Homo sapiens: one gene and its partners. The protein of the gene in region 1 purifies or fractionates together with the protein of each later gene. This does not show direct contact. Each region holds a gene or a part of one and is shown on either strand. Other genes may lie near its edges.

Region 1 (2,971 bases):
TCCTTGTTGATCTTGTATGTTTTGCCTCTGGGCATTATATCATTTTCCTACACTCGCATTTGGAGTAAATTGAAGAACCATGTCAGTCCTGGAGCTGCAAATGACCACTACCATCAGCGAAGGCAAAAAACCACCAAAATGCTGGTGTGTGTGGTGGTGGTGTTTGCGGTCAGCTGGCTGCCTCTCCATGCCTTCCAGCTTGCCGTTGACATTGACAGCCAGGTCCTGGACCTGAAGGAGTACAAACTCATCTTCACAGTGTTCCACATCATCGCCATGTGCTCCACTTTTGCCAATCCCCTTCTCTATGGCTGGATGAACAGCAACTACAGAAAGGCTTTCCTCTCGGCCTTCCGCTGTGAGCAGCGGTTGGATGCCATTCACTCTGAGGTGTCCGTGACATTCAAGGCTAAAAAGAACCTGGAGGTCAGAAAGAACAGTGGCCCCAATGACTCTTTCACAGAGGCTACCAATGTCTAAGGAAGCTGTGGTGTGAAAATGTATGGATGAATTCTGACCAGAGCTATGAATCTGGTTGATGGCGGCTCACAAGTGAAAACTGATTTCCCATTTTAAAGAAGAAGTGGATCTAAATGGAAGCATCTGCTGTTTAATTCCTGGAAAACTGGCTGGGCAGAGCCTGTGTGAAAATACTGGAATTCAAAGATAAGGCAACAAAATGGTTTACTTAACAGTTGGTTGGGTAGTAGGTTGCATTATGAGTAAAAGCAGAGAGAAGTACTTTTGATTATTTTCCTGGAGTGAAGAAAACTTGAACAAGAAATTGGTATTATCAAAGCATTGCTGAGAGACGGTGGGAAAATAAGTTGACTTTCAAATCACGTTAGGACCTGGATTGAGGAGGTGTGCAGTTCGCTGCTCCCTGCTTGGCTTATGAAAACACCACTGAACAGAAATTTCTCCAGGGAGCCACAGGCTCTCCTTCATCGCATTTTGATTTTTTTGTTCATTCTCTAGACAAAATCCATCAGGGAATGCTGCAGGAAACGATTGCCAACTATACGAATGGCTTCGAGGAGATAAACTGAAATTTGCTATATAATTAATATTTTGGCAGATGATAGGGGAACTCCTCAACACTCAGTGGGCCAATTGTTCTTAAAACCAATTGCACGTTTGGTGAAAGTTTCTTCAACTCTGAATCAAAAGCTGAAATTCTCAGAATTACAGGAAATGCAAACCATCATTTAATTTCTAATTTCAAGTTACATCCGCTTTATGGAGATACTATTTAGATAACAAGAATACAACTTGATACTTTTATTGTTATACCTTTTTGAACATGTATGATTTCTGTTGTTATTCCTATTGGAGCTAAGTTTGTCTACACTAAAATTTAAATCAGACTAGAGAATAATTTTTGTGGCATGTTGTAACATTTCACAGTATTTACAAGCTATTTTTGCACAGGTACATAGCTCTCATGTATTTAAAGAACACTGCAGTGTTATTTTCTTTGAAATTCATCCTCCACGGACCCATTCATACTAAATAAAACAATGTAATTACATTAAAATGGACCTATCTGTAAGAGGTACTAAAAACACTGGATTCATTTCATCTTGCAAATGTTGTATTTCAAACCAGTTTCACATAAGTTATTTGTCTTCTTTTCAAAATAATTAGCTATATTTTTATATAATATGAATATATACATAAAAATTGTTTCTATAAATTGTAGAACATAGATGCTACAGTATTTTTTATTTAATTATATTATGAATAAAATTGTTATTTCAATAGTACCCAACCAAAGATGCTTAAAAACCTTCTATGTTCATAAAAAATAACAACTGAGATGTTAAAATAGTCATACGTCTTTAGATGCTATTAAAGTTTCATTAGTCATATTTTTGTAAATATGACAGAATTTGTGAATATATTTTTAAAGCAAAAAACTTCAACATGCATATGATATATAGTTACAACATTAATTTTATGAACTGGAGAGCTTTACTTTGTGGATATATTTAAAATTCATATTATAGCTCCTATTAAATTCCTTCCATGATAGATATAAAGGACTGGTTTTTAAGTGCACTGCACTTCTGGAATACTGAAAAAGAATGAAAACAATATGTTAGATTAGGTGTAAGACTTTAAGAAGCGAACAAAAAGTAATGTATATCTGTAATATATAATCAAATGATTCATTTTTCTGTTAGACTAGGCAAATTGTTCAAAAATAACCTTTTTGTCTTTTAAGTAGCAGTCACTTTGCTTAAGATGCTAATAGAAAACTGTGGTTAAAGATTTACCCTCCCTCTTGGTGAATTATTACACTGTAAGAAATGTATATGCTACTGTGTTACATGTTGTATTAGTAAATTATTAGAATCCAATTAATGATTCAATTAACATATATCTTATCCAATTCATTATGTCAATTCATTAATAAAATACCTTTTATGTAGAGGCTTTATGTTGCAATTAAAAAGTTGGGAAAATGAGAGAAATTGTGTGGAATTTTATATCAGAGTGCTTGTCTAAGACAAGGCAGTAAGACTAATGCAACTAAAAAAGAAAAATAAGGGCTGCTGTTCCACAGTTAGTCCAGCTCTCTTTCCATTCTGTACCTGAACCTGAGTCAATGGATCCACTCTTACGACTGCAATTACAATACATAATATGAGGATACGTGGATCTTCATTTTTCAGACAAGACCTTTCTTCTTAACTTCAATTCTGTATCTCTACCGGCCAATAGACCATGTCCACATGGGTGTCTCACCAGCAAATCAAATCTCAAACAGAACCTGCCATTTCAATGCACACCTCATCCCATCTCCCCTCCACGTTGTCTTCCCGTATTCTCTGTCTCAATCATGACACTACTATGTACCTATTTCCCAAAAGCCTTACATTTTGGAATCACCCTTTACAAGTCTCTTTATCGCATGTATCTAATTAATTCCCACATCTTGTTTTAATTCCTACGTGTTTCTTTAATC
Region 2 (3,500 bases), on another chromosome or scaffold:
GGGCCGGATTCGGGTGGGGACCCAGCTCCGGGTGCTGGGCCCTGAGGACGACCTGGCTGGCATGTTCCTCCAGGTAGCGTTGCTGCTGCATGTGGGTCTCCACCTGCAGCCCCTCTTCCTGCGTGCAGCCTTCGCTGCCGCCTCGCACGCACAGCGGCCTTTACTTGCGTGACCGCCTGACCCAGGCACGCTGCACACGCACAGCGGCCTTTACACGCGTGACCGCCTGACCCTGGCACGCTGCTTTCACGTAACACCCCCATGCTCTCAGATGGAGGCTAGGCCAACATTGGGGAAGGGGGTCGCCCTGCATCCTCCCTGCCATCCTTGCACACCCCTCTGCGCGGGGCACCCGGTTTGATGTGTACAGAAGCTGAGGTTGCAGGTCTCGCCTGAGGTCTGGCTGTTGGAGCCGGGGATCCTGCAGGCCTCACCACCTCCTGATGGAGAGCCTGGTGGTCCCTGGGCAGGCTCTGGACACCTTTGTTCTCTGGGGCAGCTCCTGGGTGTTGGGGTCCCTCACTGCTTCACATCACAGGTCTCAAGGGCCCTGGGCCCCTCAGGCCACAAGGTGGGGGCTACGAATGAACAGGGACACGATGGGACGCGGTTCTGGCACGGAGCTGCACCGGGCGCTTAGCCTCTCCGCTGCGCTCCTCCTCCTTCTCCTCCGCTTCCTCCTGACACTGGCCTTCCCCGTTCCAGATTTTCCCGCTCAGCCCGGACCCTCGGTGGCAGAGCTCCAGTCCCCGCCCCGTGGCCCTCGCCCTGCAGCAGGCCCTGGGCCAGGAGCTGGCCCGCGTCGTCCAGGGCAGCCCCGAGGTGCCGGGCATCACGGTGCGTGTCCTGCAGGCCCTCGCCACCCTGCTCAGCTCCCCACACGGCGGTGCCCTGGTGATGTCCATGCACCGTAGCCACTTCCTGGCCTGCCCGCTGCTGCGCCAGCTCTGCCAGTACCAGGTACTTGGGCGTGGGCCTCTTGCGGGGGAGGAGGGCAGTGAGGGCTCTGCCTCCCGCAGGACGGCCCGGGTGTCCTGTGACTGCTCCTCTGTGGGTCTTGGGTCTCAGTTTCCAAGTGAGAAAGGACAGTGCCCCAGGGAGTGGCGGCAGGTCCCCTTTTTCCAGTGAACATTCCCCCGGGACGGGAGGTGGGGGCAGTGCGGCGTCCGCCTGTTTGCACCACCCAGGCTCGGCGCTCCTGCCTTGCTTTCCCCATCTGCTGGTACCTAGGACTGTGTTTTACTTGGTGTCTGTGTTTACTTTTTCCTTTGAACCGCGTGGGAGCCCTCACCAGCTGGGGGGTTTTGAAAGGGTCTCTGTGAGGTCGTCTGGGCCCGTGCAGGGGAGGCACCGTTTCAGACAGGAGGCGGGATGAGGTTGGCCCAGGCTCCAAGTGCCGGTCGCGGCAGGTCTCAGCAGCCTCACGGGCCCTGCTCTGGGCCTCGGGTGCCGGGTCCCCGTGTGTCCTCTGCCAGGGTAGCCACGTGCCACTTTGTCCCCGCAGCGCTGTGTGCCACAGGACACCGGCTTCTCCTCGCTCTTCCTGAAGGTGCTCCTGCAGATGCTGCAGTGGCTGGACAGCCCTGGCGTGGAGGGCGGGCCCCTGCGGGCACAGCTCAGGATGCTTGCCAGCCAGGCCTCAGCCGGGCGCAGGCTCAGTGATGGTGAGGACCGCGCCGGGCTGGCAGACGGCTGGGGGGCACTGGACAGGGGCTCACTCAGAGTGGCCAAGCTGCCTGGCACCCCGAGGCCTGGGCAGTGGCTTGGGGGGTGGGTACCCGCGTGGGCCCAGGGGAGCCCTTCTACCGTGGGGCCTCCCTGGATGGGATACACCGATGGGGTGAGGGCTGGAGCCACAGGGCACTCACACAGACCTCCCACAGTGCGAGGGGGGCTCCTGCGCCTGGCCGAGGCCCTGGCCTTCCGTCAGGACCTGGAGGTGGTCAGCTCCACCGTCCGTGCCGTCATCGCCACCCTGAGGTCTGGGGAGCAGTGCAGCGTGGAGCCGGACCTGATCAGCAAAGGTACCTTCCTGGCACCATCCTCTTGGGCCACGGCGGCCCTGGGAAGACCCAAACCTGAGGCTCCTTCTAGCTGCCCAGTGGGGGACGGACAGTGTCTGCTCAGCACTGTCCCCGGAAAGTGCCCACAGAGGTCCCCTCCCAGATGGCTCAGGGCGGGGCCTCTTGAGAATGAGTTGGAGCTTCCTCCTTGGGGGGCCCCTGATCACTGCTGCACCCAGCAAAGTGAGCCCCGGCCCCGGCCGCACTCTCCAGCCCCGGCCGCACTCTCCTCTCCGGCCCCGGCTGCACTCTCCTCTCTGGCTCCGGCTGGACTCTGCTCTTGTGTCCCACACATGCTCACCCCACACCCCACCCTGGCTAGCCCACACCCACTCAGCGGCCCCCACCCGACCTGGGAGTGACCCACATGTCTCTTTGTCCCTTGCGCAGTCCTCCAGGGGCTGATCGAGGTGAGGTCCCCCCACCTGGAGGAGCTGCTGACTGCATTCTTCTCTGCCACTGCGGATGCTGCCTCCCCGTTTCCAGCCTGTAAGCCCGTTGTGGTGGTGAGCTCCCTGCTGCTGCAGGAGGAGGAGCCCCTGGCTGGGGGGAAGCCGGGTGCGGACGGTGGCAGGTGAGCTGGGGTGCTGCACACGGCCAGGGTGGGCAGGCGGGTGGCACCAGCCCTTCCCTGAGCCACCTTCTCCCTGCAGCCTGGAGGCCGTGCGGCTGGGGCCCTCGTCAGGCCTCCTAGTGGACTGGCTGGAAATGCTGGACCCCGAGGTGGTCAGCAGCTGCCCCGACCTGCAGCTCAGGCTGCTCTTCTCCCGGAGGAAGGTGGGTGGCACCCAGCTTCAGCACGGGGACCCACCCCAGGGTAAAGGCTCTTCCTGACCTGAAGTGCAGCAGCCTTGGCCTGGGCGAGCCTTGCAGGGGCCCCAGCACCCCCCCTGCTCTCAGGCCATGTGTCCCTGTAGCAACCCAGAGGAAGGGTAGGTCCCCCAATGGCCCTAGCAGAACCCAGGCCAGGGTCACAGTCACCTGTGGACCAGCACTGTGACCAGCCAGATGTGGGGATGGGGTGGGTGGATGGGGTGGGGTCGGCCCTGCCAAACCCTGTAGATCATGTAGGGGCCTCCATCTTCCCAAAGGGAATGGGGCTGTGGCCAGGAGAAGGGAGGGCAGGTGCTGGGCTCCCCACATCCTCCAGGGAGGGACGGCCTCACCAGAGAGGCTGCATGGAGCCCCGGGCACCTCCGCTGTGTGGCATGGCTCCCGTGGGAAGGGGCGGGGAGATGCAGCGCAGCCACCAGGAGCGGCCCTCCAGCACCATGACGGGGCCGGTGTTACCGGCAGCACCCCAAGCCTCGGCTCTCTGAGTGGCTCATTGGGGAAGCTGTCAGCTGACTTCAGCAGAGCCTGCCATTGGCCCAGGTGAGGCCATCCGGGCTTCTTCCTCCCTCCCCAGGGCAAAGGTCAGGCCCAGGTGCCCTCGTT
Region 3 (3,500 bases), on another chromosome or scaffold:
AACCTCTGCCTCCTGGGTTCAGCCTCAGGAGTAGCTGGGATTATAGCCATGCGCCACTACACCTAGCTAATTTTGTATGTGTGTGTGTATTTTTAATAGAGACAGGGTTTCACCATGTTGGCCAGGCTGGTCTCGAACTCCTGACCTCAAGTGATCTGCCCCCCCTCAGCCTCCCACAGTGCTGGGATTACAGACATGAGCCACCGCACCCAGCCTTTATTATTATTTTTAAAATAGACTTGGGCTGAGGCAGGAGGATCCCCTGTGGCCAGGAGTTCAAGACCAGCCTGGGCAGCAGAGTGAGACCCCTGTCTCAAAAATAAAATAAAATGGCCAGTTGTGGTGGCTCACGCCTGTAATCCCAGCACTTTGGGAGGCTGAGGCGGGCGGATCACCTGAGGTCAGGAGTTCAAAACCAGCCTGGCCAACATGGTGAAACCCCATCTCTACTAAAAATACAGAAATTAGCCGGGCGTGGTGGTGCGCACCTGTAATCCCAGCTACTTGGGAGGCTGAGGCAGGAGAATCACTTGAACCTGGGAGGTGGAGGTTGCAGTGAGCCGAGATCACACCACTGCACTCCAGCCTGGGCAACAGGAGTGAAACTCCTTCTCAAAAAATAAAAAATAAATAAAATAAAATAAGACTATTTTGTAGAACACTTTGAGATTTATGGAACAATTGAGAAGACGATACAGAGTTTCCATATGCCCCATACCCAGTCTCCTCTATAGTTAATGTCTTCCATTCATATGATACATTTGTTGTAGTTAATGGGCCAGTATTGATATATTATTATTAACTAAAGTCCACCTTTCATTCAGATTTCCTTTGTTTTTTCCCAGTAACCTTCTTCCATCCCAGGATCCCACATGACATTTAGTCGTCATGTCTCCCTAACCTCCTCTGGGCTGTGACAGTTTCTCAGACTTTCCTTGCTTTTCGTGACCTTGACGTTTTTGTTTGTTTGGTTTGGTTTGGTTTTTGTTTTTTGTTTTTTGAGATGGAGTTTCGCTCTTGTTGCCCAGGGTGGAGTGCAATTGTGGTGCAGTCTCGGCTCACCACAACCTCTGCCTCCTGGGTTCAAGCGATTCTCCTGCCTCAGCCTCCCAAGTAGCTGGGATTGCAGGCATGTGCCACCACGCCCGGCTAATTTTGTATTTTTAGTAGAGACAGGGTTTCTCCATGTTGGTTAGGCTGGTCTCGAACCCCTGACCTCAGGCGATCTGCCTGCCTCAGCCTCCCGAAGTGCTGGGATTACAGGTGTGAGCCCCCATGCCCGGCCAACCTTGACGGTTTTGAGGAAGGTGGAGTAGGTGTTGTGTAGAATGTCCTCTAATACTGATCTGTCTGGTGTGTTTATTTTTTTTTTGGTTGGTTTTTTTTTGTTTTGTTTTGTTTTGTTTTTTGAGACGGAGTCTCGCTCTGTCACCCAGGCTGGAGTGCAGTCGTGCAATCTCGGCTCACTGCAACTTCCGCCTCCTGGGTTCATGCCATTCCCCTGCCTCAGCCTCCTGAGTAGCTCAGATTACAGGCATGTGCCACCACGCCCAGCAAATTTTTTTGTATCTTTAGTAGAGACAGGGTTTCATCATGTTGGCCAGGCTGGTCTCAAACTCCTGACCTCAAGTGATCCGCCGGCCTTGGCCTCCCAAAGTGCTGGGATTACAGGTGTCAGCCACCATGCCCAGCCACTCTGGTGTTTCTCATGGTTAGACTGGGGTCTTGGGGAGGAAGACCACAGGGGTGAAGGGTCCTTTCTGTCACATCCTATCAAGGGTACGTGTTAGCCACGTAACTTATCACTGTTGATGTTGACCTTGATCACCTGCCTAAGCGACATGGAAAGTTTCATCTTCATTTATTCAACAAACGTTTGTCGAGCATGTACTGAATGCCAGATAGTGCATTAGGGGCTTGGAATAGAGAATTAAGAAGAGAGGCTCTTGTCCTCAAATCGTGCATGACCCTAGGGCAGGCAGGCAGGCAGGTTTAGAAATAATTGCCATAGAATGTGCATTGGGCTTGGGTGTAGGCAGAGGGGTGGATGTTTTCAGGGAGAGAGAGGGGGAAAAGCGAGCCAGGATGCTGGAAGAAGGGAGGTTGACAGAGAAGTTTTCACAGAAAGAATGGCCAAACCGGCCAGGCACAGTCCCAGCACTTTGAGGAGCCGAGGCGGGAAGATTACTTGAACCCAGGAGGTCAAGTCTGCAGTGAACAGTGAGCTATGATCATACCAGTGCACTCCAGCCTGGGAGACAGAGCAAAACCCTGTCTCTAAAAAGAAAAAAAAAAAAATCCTTGGCCAGGCACGGTGGCTCACGCCTGTAATCTCAGAACTTTGGGAGGCCAATGCGGGCAGATCACAAGGTCAGGAGATCAAGACCATCCTGGGTAACACAGTGAAACCCCATCTCTACTAAAAAATACAAAAAATTAGCCAGGCGTGGCGGTGGGTGCCTGTAGTCCCAGCTACTCAGGAGGCTGAGGCAGGAGAATGGCGTGAACCCAGGAGGCGGAGCTTGCAGTGAGCCGAGATCGCGCCACTGCACTCCAGCCTGGGCGACAGAGCAAGACTCCATCCATCTAAAAAAAAAAAATCCAAACCGGGTCTTGGAGAATGCCCTTCCAGTCAGAGGGAACAGAGTATGCACAGACACTGGCAGACATCAGGAGACCCATGTGCCTGGAGGACTGAGTGTGCCAAGCAGGGATGCAGAAAGAGGCGAGGCTGGGAAGGGCATGCACGTCTTGCAAAGACATCTGGGCTCCATCTCACCATTGGGAGCTGCTAAAGGGTCTTAGGCAGGCAATGACGTGGCAAGAGCTGCAGTTCTGTATGGTTCTGGTGGCCCCATGGACAGAGCATCAGAAAGGACAGAAAGTTCAATGGACGTGGCAGGCGCCATCAAGACAGCAGCTTTGGTGGGGCACGGTGGCTCACACCTGTGATCCCAGCACTCTGGGAGGCTGAGGCAGGAGCATCACTTGAAGCCAGGAGTTCAAGAGCAGCCTGGGCAACATAGTGAGACCCCAAGTCTCCAAAATTAGAAAAATTGGCAAGGCATGGTGGCGAATATCTGTGGTCCCAGATACTCAGGAGGCTGAGGTGGGAGGATCACTTGAGGCCAGGATCTCGCACCACTGCACTCCAGCCTGGGAAACAGAGCAAGACCTTGTCTCTAAAAGCAACAACAACAACAAAAAGACAGCAGCTTCCAGCCTGGAGAGCAGAGGCCAGTTGGGAGTGAGGTGTGGGATGTGGGTGGTAGACTTGGCTGAGCTCTAGAACATGAGAAGGGAGGAGGGGAACACCCAGGCCTGGCCAGAGTGGGTGGGTGGAGGTGGCAGGTGGCACCGGGGACCCAGATAGATGCACCCGCAGTAGGACAAGGGGCCTGCTTCTGTCAGGAAAGCATTGAATTTGAAGAGCATCTCCGCATGAGGGGCCAGAAGGGTCTTTCTAAAATGCAAACCTAGGCCACGGGCAGTGGCTCACG
Region 4 (3,500 bases), on another chromosome or scaffold:
CTTCAAACTAGTCTCATATGGCATAAAGAGAAATAGTGTATTCTCCTATTACATAAAATAGACAAAGCTTCCAGAACAGAATAATCTATAGCCAGTTATTATGGTTGTTAATCCTAATGATGTTAATAACTTACTTTTAGGCTATGCAGGAATTTGGAACCATGTGTACAGAGAGAGACACAGAAACTGTGAAAGGAGTTCTTCCATATTGGCCAAGAATTTTTTGCAAAATTTCACTTGTAAGTATTAAAACTTTGCTAGTTTATTTCTGTTGTATATTTTTTGGTTGGAGTCATGGAGACTCTCAAATTTATAATGTTGATTTTTGGTGAGGGTTATTAAATGTTATGTCAGCATTGTTATGCAGATTGAATTGTTAACACTTGAGAAGAGCGTGGAAATAAAAAAAGAGATTGGGGCCTGGTATGGTGGCTCATGCCTGTAATCCCAGCACTTTGGGAGGCTGAGGTGGGCAGATCACTTGAGGTCAGGAGTTTGAGACCAGCCTGGCCAACATGGTGAAACCCTGTCTCTACTAAAAATACAAAAATTAGCCGGGTGTGGTGATGGATGCCTGTAATCCCAGCTACTTGGGAGGCTGAGGCAGGAAAATCGCTTGAACCCGGTGGGGCGGAGGTTGCAGTGAGCCAAGATTGCACCACTGCACTCCAGCCTGGACAATAGAACAAGACAATGTCTTTAAAAAAAAAAAAAAAAAAGATTGGATTGTGTTGGGTTATGAAGAACATTTAGGAAGTCTGTTTTCAGAAATTAGGTTGTTACTGGAGAATTACCCAGGTGCTTTCCAGTTTTAATAAATTTTGATAGTGATTTTATTCCCTGTATATTTGCTGCAGAAGAATGAGAGTGAGTTGCTTAATTATTGAAGACCCAACTTTTTTTTTTTTTTTTTTAATTGAGACGGAGTCTCATTCTGTCACCCAGGCTGGAGTGCAGTGGCGCGATCTCTGTTCACTGCAACCTTGTCTCCTGGGTTCAAGTGATTCTCCTGCCTTAGCCTCCTGAGTAACTGGGATTACAGGTGTGTGCCACCATGCCCCGCTAATTTTTTGTATTTTTAGTAGAGACGGGGTTTCACCATGTTGGCCAGGCTGGTCTTGAACTCCTGACCGCCAATAATCCGCCTGCCTCGGCCACCGAAAGTACTGAGATTATAGGCACGAGCCACCAGGCTCGGCCTCAAGGCCCAACTTTGAATCTGTCTTGAATACAATCCTATCTCATTGGGAGAAGGGGAGAAAGAAAAATTAATAAATTATTTTACATAGTTTCTGATTTAAAAACCTCCAAATTATTGATTTAAAAAAAATGATTTCAGTTTAGCTTAATACATAGGTGAATTCTTGGTAATGGGTCATTATAGCATATCCGGAAATGTCTGTGATTGTTTTTATGGGCTAGAGCTATTTTAAATCACATTTATATTTTTAATAGGATCATGACCGTCGCGTCCGAGAAGCCACACAACAAGCTTTTGAAAAACTTATCCTTAAAGTAAAGAAACAGTTGGCTCCCTACTTAAAAAGTTTAATGGGATATTGGCTAATGGCTCAGTGTGATACTTACACACCAGCTGCGTTTGCAGCAAAAGATGCATTTGAAGCGGCTTTTCCTCCAAGCAAGCAACCTGAAGCCATAGCATTTTGTAAGGATGAAATTACAAGTGTAAGTTCTGGAATCATTCTGAATCTATTTTTTTTTTTTAAGTATTTAAGGGTTATAAGCATAATGACAGCTCTTTTACTTGGGATTGTAGGGGAATGAGTAAGTAGAGTATTTCCAACTGAAGGTTGCCTTTTTAAAATTCTGTTTAGTTAAATAACCATTTTGGATCTTTAACAAGATTAACATTTTGGATTGGATCTTTCTACAGTATTTAAATTTTCCATTTTAATTTTGAAGTCTTTATTATATTTTTAAAAAGTAGATGTTTTATGTAATCTAAACAAGTAATATATCTAAAAATAAATCTAAAATTATTTTCTCTCGTGTTTCCATATCAATATATATATATATACAGATCTAACTTAGTGTCTTTTTCTTTTTATTGGCTCTCTGGTATTACTATACATGGATGTACTGTAGTTTATTTAACTTTTTAGATTAATATACATTTGGATTTTTTTCCAATTTTTATCATAACAAATGCTATTTCAGTAAACATTCTTGAGTAGATCTCTTCATACCCTTGTGGGAGTGATACTTACTAGAACTTCTAGTAAGCATATGTTGGGCCAAAGAATAAGAACATTAAAATTTTTTATAATGATAAATGGCCCTTCAAAAGGCCAAACAAATTTATACTCCCATTTTCAGATAAAGTTTCTCCACACTGGGCTAACACTTTTGCCATAACTTTCTCATAAAAAGTTACCAGCCATACCTGTTTGTGGCTTTCAGTGTGTCTGTTTCTAGTAGTGTCTCATTTCTTCCCCCTTCATTTTCTATTCCCAATATATGGACTAGAAAAACCAGACAACAAAGTTGTTAGAATTATATTGAGAAATAAAAGTAGATGAAGTAGAAGTGAGGAGGGAATTGATAATTTTTTAAAAAATCTATGCTTGCATTTATTCCCTTATTTAGTACTCCTGTGTTTCCACAACACCCTGTGTATAACCCTACTTAAACATTTCCATCTGACCCTCTCCCCCTGCTTTCCTTCCTCCTTTCAATTAGCCATCCTTCCTGTGGCTCTCCATTACACTTTTAAGTTCAAATTTCTTGTCTTGACATACAAGGCTCTGCATGATCTGGTCCCTGCTTCCCTATCTAATCTCTTCACCCAGCACTCCCCAACACATAACTTGATTGTAGTACCTCATTTAGGTTCTTCCATTCTTCATTTCTCAGGTGTACCAAGCGTGTTTTTCTAGAGAGAGGGTTTGTAGCTTTAATCATATGCTCAAATGGAGTTTTCTAACCCATCTGTAGCATAAGAATCATTGGTTGATTTAAAATGCCAAGTTATAAACGTTACAAGAGTGAAGTGTCATGAGTTTGGACGCTAAGAGCTTTAGGAAATGGATTTTGAGACAACTAGTTTGGCTCTTCATAGGCTTTAGAAAATAAATTTGTTCTTGGCTTTGTCATGGATGGATAACTAATCATTGAACATTGGGTTATTTCTTCCATTTTATTTTCCCTTTAGTTGGCTATGTTACAGTTCATTACAGCTGTTGGCATTGAACTGTCTCCAGTTCCAAACCCATGTATTAGAGAGGAGTTAGGCAAATGAAAATCAAAATGTCAGCATTATAGATAGTATATCATACTGTCTATAAGACATGGGCTCTGGGTCACACCATTGGTTCTAGTCCCACTCTGCCATCAGCTAGCAACTAGGTGTGTGACCTTGGGCAAGTTTCTGTGCCTTCATTTCATAATCTATAAAGCAGGAATTAACTTGTACTTCATGGAGTTCTGAGGATTGATTTAGTTAATGCCTAAAATGTGCTCAAAGCAATACCTGGCACATG

What was found.
Region 2: the proteins of NPY2R (region 1) and INTS1 purify together in Homo sapiens (affinity purification with mass spectrometry; 2 studies listed by BioGRID and IntAct, with this or other methods). This does not show direct contact.
Region 3: the proteins of NPY2R (region 1) and EVI5L purify together in Homo sapiens (affinity purification with mass spectrometry; 2 studies listed by BioGRID and IntAct, with this or other methods). This does not show direct contact.
Region 4: the proteins of NPY2R (region 1) and LTN1 purify together in Homo sapiens (affinity purification with mass spectrometry; 2 studies listed by BioGRID and IntAct, with this or other methods). This does not show direct contact.

Annotation. Positions count from the first base shown.
Region 1 is NC_000004.12:155,214,606-155,217,576, forward strand, and holds the end of NPY2R (neuropeptide Y receptor type 2), read left to right. Parts: coding exon 1-480; 3' UTR 481-2,471; downstream 2,472-2,971. UniProt on the Homo sapiens protein: Receptor for neuropeptide Y and peptide YY. The rank order of affinity of this receptor for pancreatic polypeptides is PYY > NPY > PYY (3-36) > NPY (2-36) > [Ile-31, Gln-34] PP > [Leu-31, Pro-34] NPY > PP, [Pro-34] PYY and NPY free acid.
Region 2 is NC_000007.14:1,476,890-1,480,389, reverse strand, and holds part of INTS1 (integrator complex subunit 1), read left to right. Parts: coding exon 1-73; intron 74-705; coding exon 706-960; intron 961-1,504; coding exon 1,505-1,664; intron 1,665-1,883; coding exon 1,884-2,024; intron 2,025-2,453; coding exon 2,454-2,637; intron 2,638-2,716; coding exon 2,717-2,840; intron 2,841-3,471; coding exon 3,472-3,500. UniProt on the Homo sapiens protein: Component of the integrator complex, a multiprotein complex that terminates RNA polymerase II (Pol II) transcription in the promoter-proximal region of genes.
Region 3 is NC_000019.10:7,836,718-7,840,217, forward strand, and holds part of EVI5L (EVI5-like protein), read left to right. Parts: intron 1-3,500. UniProt on the Homo sapiens protein: Functions as a GTPase-activating protein (GAP) with a broad specificity.
Region 4 is NC_000021.9:28,982,878-28,986,377, reverse strand, and holds part of LTN1 (E3 ubiquitin-protein ligase listerin), read left to right. Parts: intron 1-140; coding exon 141-239; intron 240-1,455; coding exon 1,456-1,686; intron 1,687-3,500.